Regions from separate parts of the Homo sapiens genome. Here region 2 is linked to region 1. A link means that fine-mapping ties the variant in region 1 to the expression of a gene that starts in the linked region. Tissue or cell type: whole blood. Region 1 holds a variant in brackets; the other region holds the start of a gene. All regions are shown on one strand. Distances are from middle to middle.

Evidence for each region. PIP is the estimated chance that this variant, and not a neighbour inherited with it, causes the effect.
Region 2: DENND2B starts here. The variant in region 1 is fine-mapped to the expression of DENND2B in whole blood (TOPMed, PIP above 0.99).

The regions. Positions count from the first base shown.
Region 1 is chr11:8,775,287-8,785,159 of GRCh38, forward strand. All of the region lies in intron 1 of DENND2B (DENN domain containing 2B), which reads right to left. DENND2B-AS1 (DENND2B antisense RNA 1) reads left to right here. Exons shown (of 5, transcript NR_120590.1): 2 at 8,733-8,922; 3 at 9,870-9,873. Among named protein-coding and RNA genes, the nearest start is that of DENND2B-AS1, 11 kb to the left of the region's middle. The variant C/T (reference allele first, on the strand shown) is at 4,046.
Region 2 is chr11:8,806,612-8,816,484 of GRCh38, forward strand. It overlaps DENND2B (DENN domain containing 2B), which reads right to left and starts at 4,063. Exons shown (of 20, transcript NM_213618.2): 1 at 3,906-4,063. It overlaps DENND2B-AS1 (DENND2B antisense RNA 1), which reads left to right. Exons shown (of 5, transcript NR_120590.1): 5 at 3,466-3,665.

The DNA of each region.
Region 1 (9,873 bases):
ATGTCAAATACTTAAAAAAACAAAAAACTCTCCCAAGACAAAAGAGAAGTCCAATCTCACCCTGAAAATTTACTGTCCAAATAAGGGAGCAGTCAGTGCTAGAACAGTCAGGCTGTTCCAACTCCAAAAAGCCCTGGGAGAGAGGCAGTTCCCGGGCTTCAGATTCCACTGACAGGTTGTAACCCCTCAAAGCCACTAATGGGCACATTCTAGTGGCTAATTCCTCTGACCTTCCAGATGGCTGGGGTGGGGACACACCCCAGCTGAGACCCAAGGACACTGGTTCCTGGCAGGGAGCATGCAAAATCTCAGCAGCTCCAACCAGGCCAGATTAACAGCCCCATGCTCAAGGACACGCTGCCGGAAGCAGGACCCAGGAGGAAGACGTCCTTGGAGCCATTTCTTCTTTAACCAAATAAGAGCCAAATATAGCCAAATATGAAGAAACAATGTCATCTTCTTTGAAATTTTTCTCCACTTTATCACCTCATACCTAGTTTACTGCAATGGTCTCTGGTTATACAGAGAGCACTTTATCCAGTGCCAGCCCATAGGAGGCACTAAATAAATGTTAAACAGTATTATTGTATGACAAGCTCCCCTTTATTCTTCTACCTCCAGTCCTCTCTGCTCATAAGTGACAGACTAAGCATCCTGGAATGTCAGTATCATCATGTCATTCTTCTGGGCTCCTTAACCGCCAATCACACCAGACTCAGGTTCCCTTAATTGGTTCCAACCAATCTCACTTTCCAATTCTTCCTTCCCTCTTCAGCCAGCCCTGGCCCTACCACCCTCCCCAGACCTGCCCACACAGAGATACACAGACTTGCACATGCACACAGACACGCACGTGCGCGCACGCGCGCGCGCGCACACACACACACACACACACACACACCTACCTCTCTCCAGGCAGGACACCTTCTGCTCCAAACATGTCCACGTGTCCATTTCTGCCCCATGTTTCTGGGCTCAAATCACTGGCAGCCTGGAGTGCTCTCCTTCTTCCTCTCTGCTTATCCAACTCCTAGTATGCTCCAAGGCCCAGGCCAAGGTCCCCTGAAGCTCAGGCTGAGAAGCCATTCAATCCACAAACAATGACCAAGCACCTGCCTTGTGCAAGACACTAGCCCAGTCACTGAGGACACAGGAAGGAAAACAACACAGTCCTACAGGCTCCTGACCGGTGGGAGGGGCTTCAACATGAACTGCTCTGCTCACCTGAACCATGCAGGCAGCAGAGTCAACCACCAGACATCGCAGGCAGCTTGCTGTGCCACTTGTAGGGGTAAGGTGAGGGCAGCACATGAAACCCAGCTAGATGGGGTCTTCTTACCTTTCAAGACTTCAACCTTTCAAAGAAGCCACCACGGCCTAGTGGCTTAGAATATATTCTATTATAAGAACCTTCATTCTCTGTGACCACCTTGGGTAGCACTGCCCCATCTTGCTTTAGAATTTTATCAGCTAGGCTGGGTCCAACCTCATTCAATAATAGCCATGGTCAACTACCTCTCCTTAGTGCCAGGCAAAAGCCTCACATCCCTGCCCTAAGCCAGGGAACAGAGAGAGAATGATCTCCTTAGGGGTTCCTAGGCCTGATGCTACTTGACTACAGAGATGATGGGGGTCACATGGGAGCCAACCCTTAGGCCTCTTTAGGGAAAAAGGGTAATCTGCAATTCTGACCATAGGAGTAACTCCACCCTTCCCTCTCTTATTTAAGAAAGCTTATGAGAGAGTGAATGGGCTTGCTATTATTATAGGTATAATCTTGCATACCTTCTAAATTATAAGAATAGGTAACCCATTTAAGATTACTTTGGTCCTTTAACTCCTGTAGTAACAAATGCCACGTGATACATGCCTCACATCTAGTCCTAAGCTGCTAGTGAGTTACAGTGCCTGGAGAGAAGCAGCTGCTATGAGCTTCCAGTGTGCCACCCCCACCCAGGCACCCCACCTTGGATAGCCAAGAGGGCTACCTCGGTAAAAAAGAGATCCTAAGACAGACTTGTAAGCTCAACCCAGAGGGTAATCCTAATTCATTTCCCCCTGCCCAGGGGAGACAAATGTTGCTATATCAATGACTGGGGAAAAGGCCCACATATTTTTCATGTCTCACCCTCAGACTGGAGTGGCGTCTCACTGCTTCTAGAAGATTGGAACTATTACTGACTTGGTATTCATATGGACCAAAGGTACCTCCTGTTGGACATTCCTTAGGCCTGTCACATATGGTCCAAGAAAGCAGTAAGATGGAAAAGAGAGACCAGCTAAGAGCTACTCCAAATGCCCACACCATCAGATGATCATCCCAAGTGTCAGAGATATCTGTGAATCAAGTGCTCAAAGCTACACACATTGGGAGTGCTCTAAAATTCCTATCAATACAGTTATTCTTTTTCCCAGAACCAGAAGAGGCTCTCTTGATGTAATCTTAGATACCAGGGAATATAATGTTCAACCCAGGGAAAAAAAAGAGAGAACACCTAACCCATCCCTACTTATATTTCCAGCAGTGGAGACTCACAGTCTTCCTCATCATCCATCCTCCCTGTAATCTACCTGAACCTCAAGTCTCTGAATAAGCTTATCTCACATGTGACTTAGCTGTTGCTTTTTATAGCATGAACTATTCAGCCTCCTACTAAGACCATCTTTTCCAGAGAGGCTGAATGGGTCTCAGTCTCTACTAAGGAAGCTCACATCCTTCAGGAGCTTACCCAAAACAACAGTCACATATTTAGGCATGCTGGCTTGTACAGCTCAGGTCAGCCAGAAAGGCCACAGCAGCTGCTGACCATTATACCACATGTGAGCACTAACGGGGATCAATGAGTCAAGCCTTGAAAGGGCAGAACAGAAGGAAAGAAGTTACCATTGGCCCTTGGATCACCAGCAACTAGCTCGAAAGAGTCTGCCTAATGAGGACTGCATCCAGCCATAACGAGCACCTAGTCTTTGAAGCCTGTGGCATCCAGACAGTATCACTTCCTACTTGACTGCTTTCAGGGGGCCTTCCACACAGCCACCCCTTACACTACACCCATCTCCAAGGCTGAAGAGAAGACCTAGTGCACACTATCTTGAGAGGCTTAGCCACACATTTCAGTCCCCGTCCACATCCACCCTCCCCCTGCCCCTGACAGCTCAAATATTCAGTCTCCACATGTGTCTATGTGCCTGTGTGTCTGTGTTTTATTTATACTACCCATGTCTGTTGTTAGCAACAGAAACAAAGTACTTTAAGGCAGAAAAGGCAAGTCTGCCAATTGGCTTGCTGCTCCCCGCCTGCTTCCAGCTCAGGGAAGGGCTGGTAAATGATCCCTCCAGCTCCAATCTACCATGTGTGCCTACAGCTCCCACGTACCCGGGGGCTGGGAGGCATGGTGCCAGTTTGGCCCACATTAGTCACTGCTGCATGGGGTGCCGGCCATCACCTCTCTCTCTTCTTCCCTGGAGGGCACACCCTGAACACCTGATTCTGTCACCTGCCTAAATGCTGATTACTGTCGAAAGGCAGAGCTTCAGAAGCCAGAATTCAAGAAACCCATGGTAAAGATGAAAGGGCAGTTCCTCCCCAGACTCAAGACTCTGGAGAACTAGCCCAGGCTAAGTTCTACTTTCACGTCTTTCCATTCCCACTTCAGTTTTTCTGCTACTGATAATCTTCCAAGTTCCAATAGCAGGCTCCCTAATAACATTGACAGTAATTATTGATCACCACTTTGTTTTAGCTGAGAGAACAAAACATGAGATGTGATTCTTACATGTGGGGAGCTCACAGACGAATGTAGGGCACTGAGACACAACAGCAAACGATGCAAGTGTGGGACACAAACTAGAAAGACAGGACAATGGAGTGGTGGAGGGGACAGAGCAGCTCTGGACGGGGCTTCTGTGGGAGAGGAAATGTGAGCCAGACTGTAAAGGACAAACAGTAGCTGGACAGAATGAGACAGAAGACTGTTTGAGATGAAGAATGAGACTATGACTCAAGGTCCCAAGGCAGAGAGAGTGGCAAATATCACACCCATAG[C/T]GTTTTTCTCACATTCAACTGAGGCTCAGCCCTAGCAGGTATGGAGGAAGGAAAGTGGTGTGACTTGGTAAAAACAGAACCCTCCCCTCTGGGTTACCATGCTCTCCAGCCTCTCTGCACCTACCTCTGCCAAAAGCATGCTCGGGGTTTCCTTTTTCTTTCTTTTCTTTCTTTCTTTCTTTCTTTTTTTTTTTTTTTGAGACGAAGTTTCATTCTTGTTGCCCAGGCTGCAGTACAATGGTGGAATCTCGGCTCACCACAACCTCTTACCTCCCGGGTTCAAGTGATTTTCTTGCCTCAGCCTCCTGAGTAGCTGGGATTATAAGCATGCACCACCACACCGGCTAATATTTTGTATTTTCAGTAGAGACAGGGTTTCTCCATGTTGGTCAGGCTGGTCTCGAACTCCTGACCTCAGGTGATCCGCCCCGCCTCAGCCTCCCGAAGTGCTCGGATTACAGGCGTGAGCCACCACGCCCGGCCAAGGTTTCCATTTTCTGTGCTACTCCAAAATCCTCTCCCTTGCATGTCATGGAATGCAGCCAGCCTAACTTCCTAAACTCAAAAACATCCCATTGAAATTCCTGGTACTCAAGGCTCCTGCTCCCACGGTAGGACAAGCTTCAGGCTCCCCCAGGTGCAGTGTGGGCCAGGAGCTTGAACTATTCCTGTGTTGGCCTGGGTCAAGCTGTGAGTCTGATTCTTTTCTCGCTAGAGCAGGAGAAGGGGGGCAGTATGAAATTGTAACTATGGTTCCTGGAAGCCAGGACAACCATCTTTCCTCCTTCCATTCATACTTACAGTCATGCATCCATTCAGCTAATATACACCAAACACCAACCATGCATAAGCCAATATGTTTAGTGCTGTTTGGACACCAAATGCATCAGGTATGGGTCCATCCTCAAGGAGCTTCCACTCTGTAGGGTGAATACAATAGACATATAAATCTCATAAATACCAGGAAGACTATTTTAAGTGCCATTAGAAAGATGAAATTAAGTGCCACTAGAGAGATGCCATTAGAGAGATACAATGTTGAAGCTTAGGTAGAAGGAGATTACTTCCAAATAAAGGATCAAGAACACTTTACAGAGAGGGTGACCCTTGTGCTAGGCCTGGAAGATCAAATGGCAAAAGAATACAGGGGTATTCCTACACAGATAGAACTACATGCACAAGGGCTTGGAAGCAGGAAAGCAGAAGACGTATGAAGGACAACAAAGTGTTTGTCAGTCTGATGGGAGTTTAATTGAAAGTAGACCAGGGAGAAAGAGAGTTGGAAAGACAGAGACATGTCGGCTCTTAGAGGCCTCTGAGAGCCAAATCAGGGATCTTAGTTTTTCTCTGGGGAATCACAGAAGTTTTCTGAGAAAAGAATGATGGGTCAGAGATTATGCTTCTGAAAGATGAAGCAATACTCAGAGGTCTAGGGGCTACGGCAGAAAAATCTGTTCAAGTGGTCCACGAGGGCTAATGATCACAGGAGGGACAAGGGAGAGAGAGAACTGAGGTAAGCAGCAAGTGCAGGATGAGAATTTCTACCTTTGAAGCTCAGGCTGAACAGAAAAATCAGTAGGCAGTGGCCAGGGTGGCTAAGAGGCTACACAGGCAGAGAAGAGCTGGAGAGCCAGCTCTTGGGAGGGGACAGCGAAGGAGTGGGAGGTGGAAACAGACAGGAGACCAGGGAAGGGAAGGGAATCTCCGAGTTCAGCATCCTAAAAGTGAAACTGCTCCAAGTGATAAAGCCAAAGGTACCCGAAGAGGAATAAAGACGAAGTCCTTAGAGTTGGAAGGATGGAGGGACTGTGAGGCCGGAGCATTGATGGATTCTCAGTATGAATCCTCAAATCCTAATTATGCCAAAAAGAGGACATATGAAGAAGGTTGTTAACAGTTAGCCTGAAGTCAATAGGCAGGTAAGGGCACCAAGAGTGAGCAGAGGAGGGACTAACTTCTCATGGGAAAGGTTGCCAGCCCGGGCTTGGAAGCAACGTGGGGAGTTCAGAGCGAGAGTTGGGAGGAGGTGAGGTGGCTTCATTGGAGAGGGTCACAAGGAAAGTAAGATCTTCAGGGAAAAGCCAGCTTTTGGCTATAACAAAGAGGTAGGAATGTTCTAGGAAAAGCCACCAAAGAAGGGGCAATACCACTTTTTGTCTATTACACTGGGCAAGATGATAAAACTATTCCCAGAGTCAGGCAGGGTGTGGCAAGCTGGGCACTCTCATATACTGTTGGATGTTCTGTAAACCAGTATAATTTTTCTGGAAAACAATTTAGGAATACACACACACACACACACACACACACATAACCTCACAAGGATAACCTATACAAAGTTAAAAGATAAGCCACAGACAGGAAGAAAATAATTACAGAGCACATAACTGACAAGTGATTAAAAATCAGAACATATTAAGAACTTCTAAAGGAAAAAGACGAAAACCCAACTGAAAAATAAGTAAAAGATATGAACAGAGAATTCAAAGAAAATAAAATATTGCTCAATCTCTTTGATAAATTGGGAAAATGCAAATTAAAGTGATGAGATATTATATCATACTTAGACTGGAAAATACTGAGAAGCATGGGATCTCCAAGTGTTAGCAAAAATAAGGGGAAATGAACACTTATATACATTGGTGGTAAACACATAACAACTACTATAGAGAACAATCTGGAATTACCTAGTAAAGCTAAAGAATCATACTCCCCACCACATCACTTCCATTCCTAGGTAGCTGGCGTACACAAACTCTTGCACAGTCATTACAATAGTGTCTGTAATACACAAAAATTAGACTTTAACCATTTCTCACTGCCATATAATGGTGCATTATACACCAATTAAACCAAATGATTTTACACATGAAAACTTTTTAGAAATGACTTTGAATGAAAAAAAATCAACCTGCAAAAGGTTTGCCTGCAAGAATAGTATCATGTGTATAACATTTTAAAACACAATACTATACATTATTTATGGACACATGTATGTAAAAGGATAAGATATGCACAGTAATGAGGCTTTTATCAGTATCAGGAGGAGGAAAGGACTGCAGAAAGCTTTAGTCATATTTGTCCAATTTTTTTTCCTGAGCCTCCAAGCATGAGTACATATTTGTCAAACTTAAAAAAAATTTATGTTAACAGATCTGAAGCCAATATGGTACAGTGTTACATTTATGAAATTTGGATGATGGGTACATAGATTTTTATTATATTAACCTTTCACTTTTCCATATACTTTTCCAAGTTTTAAAAGATATTGTTGGCCGGGCGCAGTGGCTCACGCCTGTAATCCCAGCACTTTGGGAGGCCAAGGCAGGCAGATCACGAGGTCAGGAGATCAAGATCATCCTGGCTAACACGGTGAAACCCCATGTCTACTAAAAATACAAAAAAATTAGGCGGGCGTGGGGGTGGGTGCCTGTAGTCCCAGCTACTCGGGAGGCTGAGGCAGGAGAATGGCATGAACCCAGGAAGCAGAGCTTGCAGTGAGCCGAGATCACGCCACTGCACTCCAGCCTGGGCAACAGTGTGAGACTCTGTCTCAAAAAAAAAAAAAAAAAAAAGATATTGTTAAATAATTTAAGTATATTACATAGCTTTCGAACCAGTAATTCCATTTTTAGAAACTTCTAGCAATAACTATCCTGAAGTTATACAAGTAGGCACAGCTATACAGATATGTAGATATTTGCCACCACTTACCTTTTTTTTTTTTTTTTTTTTCCCAAAGAGATGGGGTCTCGCTCTATTGCCCAGATTGGAGTGCAGTGGCACAATCACAGCTCAACATAGCCTCCAACTCCTGGGTTCAAGTGATCCTCCCACCTTAGCCTCTTGAAAAGCTGGGACTACAGGCATGTAGCACCACACCAGCTAATTTTTTACTTTTTTCTAGAAATAGCATCTCACTACGTTGCCCAGGCTGGTCTCAAACTCTTAGCCTCAAGCAATCCTCCTGCTTTGGCCCACATAGCTATTAATAACAGAAACAACCCAAAAGTCCATCGTCAGGTTAACTAAATAACAATTCATCCATACAATGTAATTCTATGCAGCATTAAACATTATAGAGTAGCTCTGTATGTACTGTCTGTGGAATATATCCAAGTAATATTAGTCAGAAAAGTAGGTTACAAAATATAAGTGAAAAATGATGGCACTTTGGGGGAAAAAGCAATATATGTTAACACATATGAAGAAGATCCCAAAGGACAAGATACACCACAAATTAACAATAATTATGCTATAGGGGATTATGTGACTTTTACTTTCTTCCTAATATTTTTTGTTATTGTCCAAATATTCCTCAATGAGCATGTATTTCTTTTATTAGAAAAATCAATAAAGCTAGTTAATTTCACGCAAAAAGAAAATAAGGACAATCTGGTAATAGCAGATGAGTTTTACTTGAAATAACGGAAAAGGTAAGCAGAAAAAGAGGGAGATATCATAGACAGAAGTATAACAAAAGCTCTACCGAAACGAAGAGCCAGGAGGAAGAGCAAGGCTTAGAGGTTTTCATCCAGGTTGGGCATTTTCAGCAACAAGAACAAAGAAGGCAAGAGTGAGGAGGACAGCTGGGAGAGCTGTTTGTGACTGAAGAGCAGAGAGTACAGACAGAACTACACAGTTCTCAAATTCCATACAAAATTTTAATACGTTTTTCACTTCACAGATTCTGAACCTGCCACAGGACCAGCTCCTTTGGTGAGCGAAGTGTGTGAGCGAAGGAAAGATTCTTGGGTAGAACTTCATAAAGTCTGTCATAAGATCAGCCCCAGAGGAGGAGACTTTTCAGATCCCATCCCTCATACACATTCAGAAGGCCAAGGAAACACCCTCAGGATTGAACTATGATAAAGAAGGTAACCAATAGCCTGGACAACACAGGGAGACCCCATCTCTACCGAAAAAAAAAAAAAAAAACATTAGCCAGGCATGGACAGGGAGGTGCATGCCTGTGGTCCCTGCTATTTGGGAGTCTGAGGTAGGAGGATCACTTGAGCCCAAGAGGTCGAGGCTGCAGTGAGTGGTGACTGTGCCACTGTACTCCAGCCTTGGCAATAGAACAAGACCCAGTAACAAAAAAAAAAAAAAAGGGTGTCAAAGGAGACAAAAGCAATGACATCACAGTGGCCTTAGTTTAGCCTACACAACCAGCAACTCTGTTTCTCTAGAATTGGTGAGATAATGAGAAGCTGAAGAAACAGATGGGTAGGTGCAGTGGCTCATGCCTGTAATCCCAGCACTTACGGAGGCCGAGGCGGGTGGGTCACCTGAGGTCAGGAGTTCGAGACCAGCCTGGCCAACATGGTGAAACCCTGTTTCTACTAAAAATACAAAAATTAGCTGGGCGTGGTGGCGCACGCCTGTAATCCCAGCTACTTGGGAGACTGAGGCAGGAGAATGGCTTGAACCTGGGAGGTGGAGGCTGCAGTGAGCCGAGATTGTGCCACTGCACTTCAGCCTGGGTGACAAAGTAAGACTCCTTCTCAAAAAAAAAAAAAGAAAAGAAACAGAGTGAGAAAAAAAGTGGGCTGGTAAGCCAGCGGGTAATCATAAGCCGATCTTGTGTTTAGGCAAATACGAAACATCTACAACTTGAAACTAAACAGGGAAGTAATGGCTCTGTGGCCACCTATGATGCAGCATGGAAGTTCTACTGGCACGTGTCTTCTTTCTGGATGTAGTACCCCCTCTAACACAGCCGCCACATGGTAGAGTAGTTGCTAAGAAGCCACAGGAAGGTACAACATCTAAGATGCCACGGGTGTCCATTGAAATTAAGCCATCCTTTTACTTTTACCCCTAGGCTT
Region 2 (9,873 bases), 31 kb after region 1:
ACACACACACACACACACACACACACACCCAGGAGAGCTTTCTGGGGCCTATGGCTAGAAATAGAGAGCTCAGGTGTTTCTATCAGCACAATATTACGTGGCATATTCCTCTAAGACAGATGCACCCAGTAGTTCCTCCGACCCACCTACTGAGACAGACACACATAGCACCTCCCCTCCAGGATGAAACAAATGCCTAGCCTCCCCAGCCCCTGCCTCCCCAGGAGAAGGCACACACTAATGCAAGTTTTCCCATAGGCTTTAAAGACAAATCTCTGCAGACTATGCCAGATGGTCTTTTTTTTTTTTCTTTTTCTTTTTTCGCTCTATGCCCTCCTGGCCCCTTCTCCACTTTCCATGGTCCCTCCAACTCAAAGAACTCAATTATCTGCCTGCAGATTTCCCCTTCCCCTCCTCGCAGCCTGCCCTAAACACACCCTCCTCCCAAGCCCATGCAGAGGCACAGAAGGAAGGCCAAGCCAGGGCTCGGAAGGGCTGCTGCCAGGCCTCCTCCAGCCTCAACTATGTGTTCCCCGGGCTTGGCTGCCTCGGCCGACTCTCTTAGGCCCAACGATGGAAATGGGGACGTTTCCAGGGCAATGACAGTTAACAGCTAAGAGGAGTGACAGGAAGGAAGATGTATTCTTCAATCCTTCAGTCCCAACTGCCCCACAGGGAGGTGCTTCAGAAGGCCCAGGCCTCAGAGCCTCCCATCTCCCTGAGGTGCCAGGTGGACCTCCCGTAATGCAGTTCTTAGAATCAGATGCGGTGGGGAGTGGGGCACAGCCTCTCTTAGGTCTAGGCTACCAGTGGGGCCATGATACTTGGATTGCCCTCCTGAATCTGTACACCCCGCCCTTCATTCCAGGGAAAGAGGCTGAACCAGCAGAACCAAGGGTGTCCTTGGCCTGTTCTCCAGTGTATTTCAAAGTTTCATCTTCCCGGGGTGACTGATATCTAATTTGAGAGAGAGAGAGCCCAAGGGGAGAAGGTACAGGAAGCGGAGTAGAAGGAGGAAAGAGGGAGTGAGAACAGGAATGTTACTTTTTAATCCTTAAGGAACATAGACAGATCCAATTTGTGACTCAGCTCTGGGAAGCCGGACTGATGGGAGTCGGGGAACAGCTGCAGCCCCAATCTAAGCTGTGGGCAGCTTCTCCTTCAGGCCTTAGAGGCTGTTGTGACATGACTCAACTAGAAGGGGAGCTGCTTGTTTTGTTTCATTTTTTTAATCTGCCTACTATGGGTCTGCTCAAGGGCTTCTTCCCAGACACCACTCCGGGATATGGCTGGCAGGTCTTCCCCATCCTACAGTAAAGCTGGGGCTGTGGGTGACGCGCTCTAGTATGCCATACGCCCTTTCGACTCAATGAGGACAGACCTGGGACTCTCCTTGCCTGGAGTCTCCCTTCCCCTGCTCTTCCATTCCTTGGCACAGTCCCATGGCATATCAAGAATCTCTGCCCTTGGAATTCCCACTTCCTTGTTTCTTTTTCTTTCCCCATAAGCTGTGGCCTTATGAGTTCCTGAAAGACCTGCCCAGCCCCCAAGAAGCCTTTCGGAGCAATAACACTTTCTCCCAGTTAGAACCCTGCCTTCTAAACCCAGAATGAAGGAGAAAGACCCCTTTGCCCACTGCAGAGTGTGCCCAGCAGGACCCAGCAGGATGAGGGAACCAGGCCTGGCCTCTTTTCCAGCTGCTAAAGTTTATGGTGCCACAACTCTACAGGCAGCTGTGGGACACAGGAAAAGCGACGGGTCTTTTGGAATACCTCTCCTCTATACTATATATAAACACATGAGTCAGGTGACCAAGGAAAGCTTCCTCCCTGCAGGATCGTCTATGAGGCTCCAGTTTTATGGCAAACATCACTCTTATGAAACGACCCAACCCAAGGAAAGCAACATTTGTTTCCTTAAACATCCTGAAGAAGTCTTTTCAGATTTTTCTCATGTTTACTTATAAATGCAGAAAGGAAGAAGGCACTTTATAAAATGAGAGAACCAGAACAGAGAGGCAAAGTGACTTTCCAGAGAGAGTTGGGTCATTCCTCAAGCTTCAATTCACAACACGGTTCGTTAGATAGGACGTGACTTGTTTCAAACTACTTTCATGGAAGTTATCCCACTGGCTCCTCCCAACAGTCCTGTGAAGTTGTTCTTATTACCTCCATCTCACAGGTAAGAATCTGAAGCTCCTATTAGTTAAGATACTTGCCCGTGGCCGCCCTATGGGAACAGAATCTAGCCGTCGACTCAAGTCTAGCAACCCAAATCCATTATTCTTTCTGCTATACCAACAGAAGGAGCAGCAGCTCCTGAAACTGGGTCTCTGCTAGCCCTCTTCACAGATGTGGGGATGGTAAAATTGAAGAGCTCCAACTACACACACAAGTAGAAAAGAAGGCTGAGGTTCTGGATTTACACTGCCAACTGAAGGGGCCACTGGCTCAGTGTTATGCCACATCCCTCCAGCAAAATGTAGGTTTCAACTAAGCAAAGGATCCCTGGAGTGTATGTAGCAAGAGGAATAACTTCAGAAGTGGACCGTCTGAGGTCCAGGGCCATGGAGTTCACCCTTGTGGACCCTCAGGCCACAACCACGATGTATACATGTACTCATTTTAGGGAGCCGGAACTGGGGACATGGCCAGTGCTTGCATTGGCAAGCTGATCCGAAGTTAATCAGAATGCCCCCTCATTGTTTGCCAGAATACAAAAGACATTCTGTTCAGAAAGTTCAAGAAGAAAAACTGAAGAACCAGGACAGCAGCTGTTCCCTCATCCCACAGAGAAACCAAAGGCATTTGCAAAGTTCCCTGAGGCCAAGAAGTGAATTTAAGACATAACATGGCTCAAGTGGAAGCACAACCCCTGATGGGTCTCCGTTGCAGGAAGTGTTTGCTGCATTCATCCTCCTCATAATATTACTGACAACCCCACTACCCTATCACCTATAAAACTGCCTTTCTGGGAGGGTCTCCTTTCCAAGGCCACACAGCTCACCATGTACCACTCCTCTAGGTCAGAACAAGTTTTACCAAAACTTAGGACAATCAGTGTAGGAGTGCACAGCGTGGACACTGCGTGCCCTGAGATTTGGTCAAAATGTAACCAAAGGAATCCACCCGGCACAACTACAGTGCCTCATGTTCCCCAGCTCTTAGCAGCTGCTGCTGAGAGCTCACTCTGGGACATCTGGATGAGAAACCTGTTTGCAGGCCCCCCAACCCCAAGCCAGCCCCCTCCTCCACCTCTTAGGAAAGTCTGTGATCGACCTTTTGATGTGGGAGGACAGCTTGATTCTTACCAAGCTGCCTGGAAGAGAGAGAGTGCAAAACCCCAGCTCAGGCATCCCTGTGACAGTCCCTCTGTCCTAATAAATGCTCTAGAGGGACTTGGAACTCACCACAGGCTCCTGGCTGAGCTTAATTAGCCTTTTTTTTTTTTTTTTTTCCATTACAGGTCAGACATAGCAGCACCAAGAGACAAAACAGACAGTGTTCACTAGGACGAACAAGCGGCTCAAAAGGCACTGGAGTTTCCCTGTAAGAACTACAAACACCACGGGAGTGATGTTAACTCAGATTTTTCCATATAAAAGATTCTTCCTGTAAAAATATCCTGTGCCTTTGTGCTAAATAAAAGTAAAATGATGCTTTTTAGAGTGAAGTCTAAACACCTCAGATTCAGCAAGAGTGAGATCAGCTAGATTTGCAAAGTCAAGAAAATTGGCTGTTTCCCTCCTCCTTAAGCTAATAGAATCCAACTGTTGGAGCATGACATCATTCCTGAGCCCCAAACCCCGAGCAGAGACTACAGACACTCGCCTGACTCCCAGAAAACAGCCGGAGAGAAGGGCCAGGAAAGGAGGCCAAATGATCCCAGCCCGGAGCTGCCCTTACCTGAAAGTCCCGCTGCTTTCCTGCCCACTCCATTCTCACACCGCAGCCGGCTAGGGAGCCCAGGGCCCCCAAATCCACTGGCTTAAGCTCCGATACCTGCTGCGAGCTTCCCACAGCTCCTTCCTCTGACCTTTCGTGGCGCTCCTCGCAGCCAAGTGAGCAGAGCACTGCTAGCCGGCCAGGCCGGTTGTCATGGAGACCCTGTCCTCGCTAGGCGGGCGCGCGCACAGCGGCGCGCTCTTGGCCTAGCGCGTGCACAAGGGCGCTCTCTTTTTCTTTCTTTCTCACTGTCTCTCTCTCTCTCTCTCTCTCTCTCTCTCTCTCAGTTCTGGGAGGCTTCCATGAAACAGCACTGTCTTTTGATCAGCTCGGTTTTTGCATGCATTCCACTCCTCCTACCTCCCTTCCAGTCCAACAGGGGCTCTGAACTGCTCCTGGGAACTTGCTTGAACAGCTCAGAGGGGAGAAGGGAGAAGACAGTGAGTGGACTTGTTTTCTTCCCCTCCAGTGTCTCATTTTTTATAACTTGGAAGAATCCCTGCCAGGGGGGAGGGAGCTAGCTGAAGCGCTTGAAGGGGACCCAGCTTCCTCTGGGTCCTGGAGCTCGGGTAGGAGGGACCCTGATGCGCTGCCTTGACTTGTTTGTGCACTTGGGATTTTTCCGGGCAGCAGTTGGGGCGGAAATGCACTCACATCCCAGGAGCTCGCCTGGACTGGCCTCTCTGCTTACCTTGCTGCCTGTCCAGGTTGTGGCGATGGCTTTAACCAGTGCAGGGACTCATGGTACTAGTGGTGGCGCCTAAGCAGTCTCTCATCTTCCTGAAATGGAGAGCAAAGACAACTCGGTCAGGACCAGGAAGAATCCTGGGCAAGTCGAGAGTCACAACCCAGACGACAAACCTGATACAAATACAGCCTTGTCTCTCTGCCCTGCTAAGGATCTGCAGCTAAGGTGCAGGCTTAGTGGGAGCTGCTGTCACAGTCGGTAATAATATTGCTCCTGTCAGAAAATGAGCACAGTCCCTGGGACACGGCAGACCCCCTAAGTTTAGTCCCATCCCCATCCCCATCCTGTCCCTTCCTCTCCCCCCTACCCAGCATACATTTCTGCTTTGTAACATTCTTTTTACATGTATCATTTTGTTTGATCCTCATAACCTTTTGAAATACACTGCACAGATATTTTTATGACCATTTTTTCAAGTTTATTTATTATTCTTCTTAAATTTCTTTTAGAGACAGGATCTTGCTCCATTGCCCAAGCTGGAATGCATTGGTGCAATCATAGCTCACTACATCATCAAACTCCTGGGCTCAAACAACCCTCCTGCCTCAGCCTCTGAAGTAGCTGGGACTACAGGCATGCACCACCACGCCTGGCTACTTTTTTAATTTTTATTTTTATAGAGACAGGGTCTCACTATGTTGCCCAGGCTGGTTTTGAACTCCTGGCTTCACGCAATCCTCCTGCCTCAGCCTCTCAAAGTGCTGGGATTACAGGCGTGAGCCAGCATACTGGCCTTATGACCATTTTATAGATGGAAAAACTGAGACTCAGAGAGATTAAACATTTGATCTGCACTTATACAGTTAGGCAGTCAAAGAACTAAGAGATCAGCCAAGTTCGCCCTAGTCCAGCACACTTTCAACTAAAGTATATTGCCACCTGATTTCAAAAACTGTCAACTTTTTGATAACTGGTTATGAGATAACGCTGGGCTCCCAAGGGAAGGTGGAGAATCCTTGTAAGTTGTGGCGAGATAGGCTGACTACCATCCTTTCAGCCTAAAGACCTTAAGACAGCATCTCTAAGATGTAAAACGTCCTGATGCACAGCTCGGAGAAAAAGCCCTACCCTACAGCTATATGTGACCTTGCACTTTTCTAAACGACTCTCAAAATCTTGGCTCGTCTGTTCAACATGACAGGTCTGAAAGTTAGGATTGGCATTATTATACTAATTTAACAGATTTTTTTTTTTTAATTCTACAACAGAAGTAAAATTACTTGCCCCAGGTCATGGAACCAGGAAATAAAATCTAGAAACAATCCCCAAGCCTTTCAAGTCTCTTGAGTACATTAAGCACAGTGGTTGCAACAGCACCAGGGGTCAGAAGACCTTGGCAGTGCCTGACTCCACCACTAACGGGCCATGTGCCATTGGGCAAGTCCCATGACTTCCCCCTTTCCACCTACAGAGCCTACTGACAGGGCTGGGACTGAGCATCGGAAGAGATGCTGTCCGTGAAAGCACTCTCAAGTCAGGAACTGAACTAAGAACTTTACTCCTCTTGACAACTCCTCACCAAAAACAAACAAAAAACACTGGGACAGTTAATACCCTCCCCAGGATGAGGACACTGAGGCTTAAGGAGGATATTTTCCAATGCTGCTCCCAAAAACAGTGCTCCCAAAAAAAAGGTCCTGATGTTATTTATTTATTTATTTATTGACACGAGGTCTTATTATGTTGCCCAGGCTGGTCTTGAACTCCTGAGCTCAAGCAATCCTCCCACCTCAGACTCCTGAGTAGCTGGGATTATAGGTGTGTACTACCACACCCAGCCTGATAGAATCTTTAATGCAACATCCTATGCAGAATCTAGTGGGTTTTTTTCATTAATTTCCAGCATATCACAACATTCTCAAAACAAGATTCTGATTGACTTGAGTTTAAAAGGTAAATATATACCAGAAGTTAAGGTAGGAAAGTGTTATAAAATCCAACAGGAAATGACAGAATGGCACAAATCCTAAATGGGGGGCACTACTGCTTTAGTGAAGCAATCAGAGCTTGAAAGGGAGTGAACCTAATCACCCACTATAAATCCCCAACCCCACCCAAGCCCCAGCTGAAGAATCCCAAGTCTACAAAGAAAGACAAAGAAAGACAAGACAGAAGGGCAAATGCAGTATCATCAAATCACTAAATTTCCGCCTCTTCCTTGTCCAAAAGGCATCCCTCTGCTCTCCTCCTGATCCTCAAAATGCACATTCCACTTGCCCAGTCTCCATCCTGAGAAAGAAGGGGTGATCCCACCCCTTTCTATAATAAGATAATATTAATAATACAGTAGTAACATCAGTTAACACTTGTTGAGCACCTACCATATGCCAGGCATTCTTTTAAGCAGTATGAGGGGCCAGGGGTCAGGACTGAGTACTAGAACTGATACAAGTCAGTTCCTGAAGTAATCCAAACTTAAGAAGCCCTCCAAACCAGACCCAGAATGCGGGCCATGCTCCCCCTAGTGGCATGCTGGAGTTATGGAGGTTCCTTAGGGCCTTGTCCTGGGGGAAGGGACAAAGGAAGGGCCCCATTACTGAGAGAACTGGAATCCCTGCTTGGGTAATGCTACTGTGTACACACTCCTTGAACTGGGCAGAGTCAGGGACAGCTGAATCCCACCACTGCCTCTGCAAGGCTGGATTTAGACCAATCCTACCTGACCCTTCTGAAGGATAAGGATTTGACAACCTTATATAAGCTCTCTGCTGTCTACTGAGAGGCCTGCAAGCATACATGTGCCAGAAACCTGGGAGACATCCTCAACTCTCCCTTCTTATTTCTGCCCACATCCAACCCATTTCCCAACTGCAAACAATTCTACTTCCAAAATATATCTTTTATCTGTCCACTTTTCTCCACCTCTGATGCTACCCATCTCTCACCTTAATTATTGCAAAAACCTCCTAATTGCCCCAGCTTCCACTCTCCCCTCACAAAGTCATTAGAGCTGTCTGAATCACCTTTTTTTTTTTTTTTTTTAACACCAGATCAGGTCATTTCCTGCTTAACACACTTCATTGACTTCCCACTACACTTAAGATAAAATCTAACTTCTTACCAGGACCTACAAGGCCCAGCATGATTCTCCTCCTGCCTTCTTTCAGCACACTTCCTGCCCTTCCCTGTCTGTGCATCAGCCACATACAACTGCTTTTAGTTCCCCTGAGGTGTCATATTTTTTCCAGGTTGTTTCCCGTTGCTGGGACACTCCCCTACCAAGCAGTCTTTGCCTGGATAGCTCTTACTCACCTTGCCTCACCTTGACTCTCCTGTCTCTTGACTTTCACAATCCTCCAATCTAAATGAGGCTCCCCACACTTATCCTTCAGAGCACTCACCATGCTGTGTAATTATGCATTTATACAGTTATCTGCTTAATCTCAGTCTTCCCTCAGAAGAGTTCCTTAGGATACGAACCTTGACTATTTTGCTAACCACCAATATTCCCTGCACTTTGTGCAGGGCCCAGCTCACAGCTGGCACTCAATAAATATCTGCTGAATGAAATGCATAAAACCCCATTTCTTCCTGTCCGACAGGAAGAAGAAACTTAGAGCAGCTATTTCATGTCACTCATTGCCTCTTTTCATCGACTTACAAACTATAATTACATTTCTTTTCCTCATGTGCCTTGCCTGTGGGCACAACCAAAAATTCCTGTAAAGCCTCCCTGTGGTTTGTTTCCCAGAACTTTCCTGGTAAGGTCACTCTCCTGGGGCTGCCCTCCAGGGTTTTACAGCTGCTCCCATTACCAGTGCCCACTCACAGGCCTCCACCACCACCGGGTCATTGCCAGACCACTGTGTAGGAATGGCCCAGCTCCCACGATGACAAGGTTCTCTCAGGCCAGCAGCTCCAAGGACAAAACACCTCCTCTCCCCTCCATGGTGCAAGACACTGTGCTTGTAAAAAAATACATTTTTACTAAAAAAAAAAGTCTTATGTTTCATAATTTGGAGATGGTTGTAAAAAGTTCAGAAAAAAAGGGTTCTCTTACTAAAAAGAATTTTGAACACTACAGTCTGGTGGAAAAATGAAGGTCTAAGTAACACCAACAGCAGTGTGACTACATCCAACGTTCCCTCTTCTGGCCTACGCTCCCACCCAAATCTGAAATCCTCTGGCTTCATCTCTTGCCCACACCTCCCCTGCTACCAACCACCCGATTACAGGCACAACCACAGTGCACTGCCTGGTTCTTTGAACACTGCCTGCATTTTCCTCTCCCTCCCTCTATGGCTCATGCTGTTACCTTTATCTGAATGCCTCTCCTTCCCCCACTAACAAAATCTTACTGCCTTCAAGGTCCAACTCATTTATCACCTCCTCTGTAAAATATTTTTCAATCTCCTGATAGAATCTGTTTGTCTCTTCTGCAAATCAACAGCAGTTTAAAGATGCCTTTACTATAGCGTTGATATCACTTTATCACTGTTACTTGCACACCTGTCTCCCCCACAGACCTGAGCTCCTCGAGGTGTATCCACTTTAGTATTTCATTCAATGTATGCAATAAGTGTGTGTGAGATAAACGAATCATTGAAAAGACTCTCCAAACAAACAAACAGAAACAGCTATTTCCTCTCTTAAGGTGAGGGAATTTGAGTGGATGGACCTACATTGTACAAGAAAATACATATATGTAAATCGGATTTTGGATTAGGTCACTAGAGGGGTTTATAGTACTTTCTTGTCTCTTTAAAGACAACTGAAATTCTGAACCTGAAAACACAGGAACAGAGTAAATCTTTTCAAGTCATTCCTTACTTTGGGATCAAAGAAATTCAAGTAAAATGGGCTGTTCTTTCAATATTATTGGTTGGATCTTAGAATGCCTAAGAAATGGCAGTCTAATTTCAAATGCCTCTGGGAAGCCTAGTTTCTAATGCCCCCCAGACTGGGGTCCAGTGGTATTCCCACTGAAAACATCCAGTTCTACCAAATTAATGGGTGATCAGGTCAAGTGCAGTGGCTCACACCTGTAATCCCAGCACTCTGGGAGGCTGGGGTGGGAGAATTGCTTGAGCCCAGGAGTTCAAGACTAGCCTGGGCAACATAAGGAAACCCTATCTTTACAAATAATAATTTTAAAAAATTGGCTGGGCATAGTGGCACACGCTTGTGGTCTCAGTTACTTGGGAGGCTGAAATGGGAGGATCGCTTGAGCCTGGGAGGTTA